Linked DNA regions of Homo sapiens: region 2 is linked to region 1. The links come from fine-mapping of genetic effects on gene expression. A gene starts in region 1. The other region holds a variant in brackets. All regions are shown on one strand. Distances are between the middles of the regions. Region 1 holds the start of OSGEP (O-sialoglycoprotein endopeptidase). Region 2 overlaps KLHL33 (kelch like family member 33).

What was found. PIP is the estimated chance that this variant, and not a neighbour inherited with it, causes the effect.
Region 2: its variant is the best candidate, but not a certain one, in a credible set for the expression of OSGEP in whole blood (INTERVAL, PIP 0.72).

What each region holds. Positions count from the first base shown.
Region 1 is chr14:20,453,308-20,456,219 of GRCh38, reverse strand. OSGEP (O-sialoglycoprotein endopeptidase) reads left to right here and starts at 1,408. Exons shown (of 11, transcript NM_017807.4): 1 at 1,408-1,651. The coding sequence starts at 1,537. It overlaps APEX1 (apurinic/apyrimidinic endodeoxyribonuclease 1), which reads right to left and starts at 994. Exons shown (of 5, transcript NM_001641.4): 1 at 826-994; 2 at 517-642; 3 at 119-306. The coding sequence starts at 574. RefSeq lists enhancers at 731-950, 1,371-1,460, cis regulatory regions at 1,012-1,017, 1,033-1,038, 1,051-1,083, 1,094-1,099, 1,096-1,137 and 2 more, promoters at 885-1,219, 884-1,421, 1,051-1,495 and a silencer at 2,758-2,912.
Region 2 is chr14:20,424,048-20,426,959 of GRCh38, reverse strand. KLHL33 (kelch like family member 33) reads left to right here. Exons shown (of 5, transcript NM_001365790.2): 5 at 1-1,108. Among named protein-coding and RNA genes, the nearest start is that of KLHL33, 11 kb to the left of the region's middle. The variant C/T (reference allele first, on the strand shown) is at 1,198.

The DNA of each region.
Region 1 (2,912 bases):
GAAAACTACGGGCAGGAGAAAAATAAAACAGCCTGAAGGCTAAACGGAGAAAAGGGGTGACTAAACCCTAAGACCATTCAATACTAAAAAATGTCTCTTTCCCTCAAATTCCACTCACATCTAATCCTTTCTTCTTAATCCAGGCTCGAAGCCCATCCACATTCCAAGAGCAGATCTTGAGTGTGGCAGGTTTGCCACTGGGTGAGGTTTTCTGATCTGGGGGGTCCTCATACAGGGCTGGGCCCTCTCCTGCTGCCTCTTTGTCATTTTTCTTTGCGGCCGTCTTACTCTTCTTGGCCTCTGGCTCTATAAAATGAGTAATATATACTGACAAAAAGCTGGTGGTTTCCAACTGCGATCCGGCGTTAACTATAGACCCAACGAAAGCCTACGGTTCCTGCGACTTCTTCACAAACCCCTGCAAAAATGAGTCGGCCCGTACTTACCGTACATCAAGGGAATGACAAACACCCCCGCCGCAGCTTCTAGGAAGAAGGGCTGATTTCATTCCCTTACCTGTCCTGAGCTCATCCCCGTCTTCCGCCACCGCTCCCTTTTTCCCACGCTTCGGCATTCCCGTTACGAACGCCCTTGGGCAGCTGTACCGCGTCACCCACCGAAGCAATATTTTTACCGCGTTGCCTACAGACGCAAAGAAATCATGAAACCAGCTAAGGCTGGGGAGAAGACTCCTCCCAAGAGCGTCCCCGCACCAGGTCCCGCCTTTCAAACCACGTTATCTCTAAATCCTTTCCCCGCCTCCGTGCATCATAGGCCCTTCAGCCCCTCACCCACGAAACTAGATCATTTCATAGTGCCTTGTACCCTACTCGCGAGATCTGCCCTCCAGCCAATTGAGGATCTTAATTAAGGGTCCTGACTCAAGCTTGCCGTTCAGACTGCCAGCGAAGCCCCTCTTATGAGCAAAAGAGCAACCCCGTATCTGCACCGGCCCGATGGCAGCCTAGCTCCTCCTAACCCGAGCACAAAGAAGGGTGCACGCTGAGCCCCCACGTGGGTAGCGGACCTGGTCACGTGATCAGAGGCGCGCTTGTCGTGGCCGAAGAATGCGCGTGATTGGTCTGTCTGACACCACGTGACGGAGACGCTTAGCCTCGCCTCCCTCCTCTAATTCTCTAGGACACTTAGGTCCCCAACCCTCCCTCGGGCTGTTTATCGTTGTGCCAGATGCACAGCACATTGTGTGACACTGACTTAAGATTCTAACTATGTGCAAGAGGGAAAAAAACAGTGGAGAAGGCTGGGCTGGACCACGGGAAAGAGATAGGAAAACGGATACGAATGTAAGGCACAGAGTTGGCTCGGCGTCCCTGGCAGTTAGGAAGACAGGTCCCTGGAGGGGCCTTGGCGGGTCTCCGCTCGCGGGAGTTCCGCGGTGTCTTTCCCAGTGCTATCTGCAGGCTGGCCAGCTTCCTCTGCGCTCCGGAAAGCTGCGGCCCAGCGCGGACTAGTGAGGACCTCCACAGCTCCTGACATTGCCAGGAGTCCTGTCGGCGTTTTCTCCCAGCCTCCGCCATGCCGGCGGTGCTGGGTTTTGAAGGCAGCGCCAATAAGATTGGCGTGGGCGTGGTGCGGGATGGCAAGGTGCTGGCGAACCCGCGGCGGACTTACGTCACGCCTCCTGGCACAGGTTGGTGAGTAGGGGACTTAAGAGTTTTCCGCGCACTTCCCCGCACAGAATCAGCCTTCCATCTTCCTAAATACTAGTGAGGTGCAGCTTTCGATCCGAGTCTCATTGAAATTATGTGACATTATTAACGTCACAAGGCTGATGACTAGAAGAGTTACAGGCACTTGGACGTGGATCTGATGAGTTCATTTACCTTTTACTGAGCGCATTTTATGTGCTAAGTATTCAGAAATAGATGTTATACTGCTGTGGAGTCAGACATATAAATAGATGTTTATACTACAGCATGATAAACAGTATAATAGAGATGGACTCGAAATATTCTGTTTAAAAAACGCTTAGCAGGAGTATAGATTCCAGTTGCCCTGAATATACACTCCCTTTTTAAAAAAAAATTATTTTTTGAAATATTCTAGGATGAGTAGAGAGATGAGAGTGGAAAGACTCCCGGCTTACATGTCAGACAGAACTGGCTGGCTTTGCTATATTCATATTAAATATTTTTGTTTTGGACATTTGGTCTTTATTTTTTATTTTATTTTATTTTTTTGAGACAGAGTCTTGCTCTGTCGCCCAGGCTGGAATGCAGTGGCACGATCTCGGCTCACTGCAATCTCTGCCTTCCAGGTTCAAGCGATTCTTCTACCCCAGCCTCCCAAGTAGCTAGGACTATAGGTGTGCGCCACCACATCCAGCTAAATTTTGTATTTTTAGTAGAGTCGGGGTTTCCACCAGGCCAAGCTGGTCTCGAACTCCTGACCTCAGATGATCCGCCCACCCCAGCCTCCCAAAGTGTGGAAATTACAGGCATGAGCCACCGCTCGGGCCTGGTCTTTGTTTTTAAAATGGGAATAATACCTGTATCATTAGGTCTTGAAGATTAGATGAAAGTACCAAACACGGCTGGGCGTGGTGGCTCACGCCTGTAATCCCAGCACTTTGGGAGGCCAAGGCAGGCAGATCACCTGAGGTCGGGGTTCGAGACCAGCCTGACCAACATGGAGAAACCATGTTTCCACTAAAAAATACAAAAAATTAACTGGGCGTGGTGGCGCATGCCTGTAAACCCAGCTACTTGGGAGGCTGAGGCAGGAGAATTGCGTGAACCCGGGAGACAGAGGTTGCAGTGAGCCGAGATGGTGCCATTGCACTCCAGCCTGGGCATCAAGAGTGAAACTCTGTCTCAAAAAAAAAAAAAGTACAAAACACATTACAACTTTTAATTGATATTTTAAATAAGCTATTATATCTTGCTACTCTC
Region 2 (2,912 bases), 29 kb after region 1:
GAGAACATGCGGTGTTTGGTTTTTTTGTCCTTGCGATAGTTTACTGAGAATGATGATTTCCAATCTCATCCATGTCCCTACAAAGGACATGAACTCATCATTTTTTATGGCTGCATAGTATTCCATGGTGTATATGTGCCACATTTTCTTAATCCGGTCTATCATTGTTGGACATTTGGGTTGGTTCCAAGTCTTTGCTATTGTGAATAGTGATGCAATAAACATATGTGTGCATGTGTCTTTATAGCGGCATGATTTATATTCCTTTGGGCATATACCCAGTAATGGGATGGCTGGGTCAAATGGTATTTCTAGTTCTAGGTCCCTGAGGAATCGCCACACTGACTTCCACAATGGTTGAACTAGTTTACAGTCCCACCAACAGTGTAAAAGTGTTCCTATTTCTCCACATCCTCTCCAGCACCTGTTGTCAATTTTCTTTTTCTTTTTTTTTTTTTTTTTTTTGAGACAGAGTTTTACTCTGTTGCCCAGGCTGGAGTGCAATGGCGTGATCTCAGCTCACCGCAAACTCTTCCTCCTGAGTTCAAGTGATTCTCCTGCCTCAGCCTCCCTGAGTTGCTGGGATTACAGCTATTACATCTGGCTAATTTTGTATTTTTAGTAGAGACGGGGTTTCTCCATGTTGGTCAGGCTGGTCTTGAACTCCCGACCTCAGGTGATCCACCCACCTCGACCTCCGAAAGTGCTGGGATTACAGGCGTGAGCCACAATGCCCGGCCTGTGTAGGTCAGTTTTCTATTACCATTGTTTATTAAGATTTTCATGTTTCTAAGGGTGATGATGGAGTCTCCCTTGCACCCTTCTTCATTCTGGCCCCAGAAGTACTTGGCATGTATTTTATTTATTTATTTTTAGATTTCGTTATTTTAGTAAGATCTTTTTCTGTATCTCTATTTAAGATAGACTAGGAATGTAATTGAAAATGAGAAGGGGTAAGTAGGATGTATAAGAGAAAAGAGAAGGAAGAATAAAGAACGGGAAGAAGGAAATTGAAGGAGATGACAAGCTCTCTGGATGAACTTCTATGAACATTTTTTGTGATTTGTACCTAAAGGCAGACTTAAATAAAGGTTTCATAGTGACTGAATCTTTCTTATCTGAGTTTCTCTACTATAAAAAGCATTCAAAATAAAATTCCCTGTATTCTGCCTTCTAGGTCTACCACATGATTGAAAT[C/T]ATCTCCCTCCACTGTTACTGTGACCTGCTTCTTACCAAATCTAACAATCTGTGGCCATCTTCATTCTCTTTCATCTTTCTACAGGAACTGATTGGCGTGAAAACTGGCTCTTACCCTAAAAATTTCTCTTCTTCTGGCTTTAGAGATAGCACACTCTCCTGGATGGACCTTCTCTTATTTCTCCAATCCAAAATCCAGTAAGCCAGATCAAAGTGTCCAGGGGGGTGTGGCTTCATCCTTGGAGCTGATAGCCAAGGATCCACAGGTATGTGGATGAGGGTGGTTCATTGCAGAAAGTTCTGACTTTCATTATTTGTCTTTAAAACTGAGGGAAGAGTGAGGAGAGAGGAGACCTCTGACTTGAAGGAGGACCCTAGTCAATAGTCCATTCATCAGTGAGAAGGGACTGAATATAGGCAAGGTAACAGTCTGGGTCTTCAGCCAGGCAGACTAAGAATAGGGTAATATCAGGGTAACATTTCAACCCCAGAAGGGAAGTGGAGTGAGAAGTAGGAATTGGGATAGAAACTATGCATACAGATTGGGCAGCCGTGGTGGTGACCTGGCAAGACTAGTTTGATGACTGTAGAGGCCTGGGATTCTTACCTTTGGTGAATCAGATGATAAGCCAAGGTGTTCTAGATGCTCTCTAATAGCTCCCCCAACAGTCTTCCCTCCACCCCCTTTGCTGGTGAGGGTGAAATTTCTGATATCTCTCTTATCTTTCCAAGGTTGACTCAGGTACTGGGTAGGACTGGACATGCAGGTTAATGTTTAGTACAAGTAAGTGTGTGGGACTCTAGGTATCACTTGTCTCCTGTGCCTAGTCCTGGCTGGGTTGCTCACGTTCTTCCTTTCCTTTGTTTTATGCTCCCTGTCAGGAAGCTCACCTCTCCTCTGTCTCCAACCTTGATGGTTCGCCTGGGTTCTAGTCTGATTTTTTTCAGTGATTCTCACCTCCATTTAGATGTGCCAGCATCATTAGTTCAGATTCCTCATGCTTTATTGGCACTATCATTTCTCCTATTTCCTGGGCCTGAAGCTTTGGAATCCTCTTGAGCTTATTTTCCTTTATCTTTTCTTCTTTACTTGACTCATCATGTAATACTGGACTACCCAAAGAAAAACTGACTTAGTGTCTTCTCCCAATCTTTTCTGTGTTAAATATAATATATACGGAAAATTTTTAGCCAGGTGTGGTGACACATACCTGTAATCCCAGCTACATGGGAGGCTGAGGCACGAGAATTGTTTGAACCCGGGAGACGGAGGTTGCAGTGAGCTGAGATTGCACCACTGCACTCCAGCCTGGGTGACAGAGTGAGACTCTGTCTCAAATTAATAATAATAATATATGGAAAATTGATAGCAAGGAAGGTTTAAAAAAATAGAAGAGCAAATTTATATGAAAATTTCACTAGCTGTGAAACCAAGAATTATTACTTACCCAGACAGACACTCTGGGTTGTAGAAGCAACAATGTTCAATCAAAAGAATGAAAAAGTGCCAGGCACCGTGCTACATGCCCATAGTTCCAGCTCCTCAGAAGGCTGAGGTGGGAGGATTGCTTTAGCTCAGGAGTTCGAGTCCAGCCTGGATAACATAGTGAGACCCCATCTTGAAAAAAAAAGGAATAAAAGAAAAATTGCATAGAAAGATTATTTAATAGAATTATAGAATGGAGAGGTTTCAGAGATCATGTAATTCAAACCTT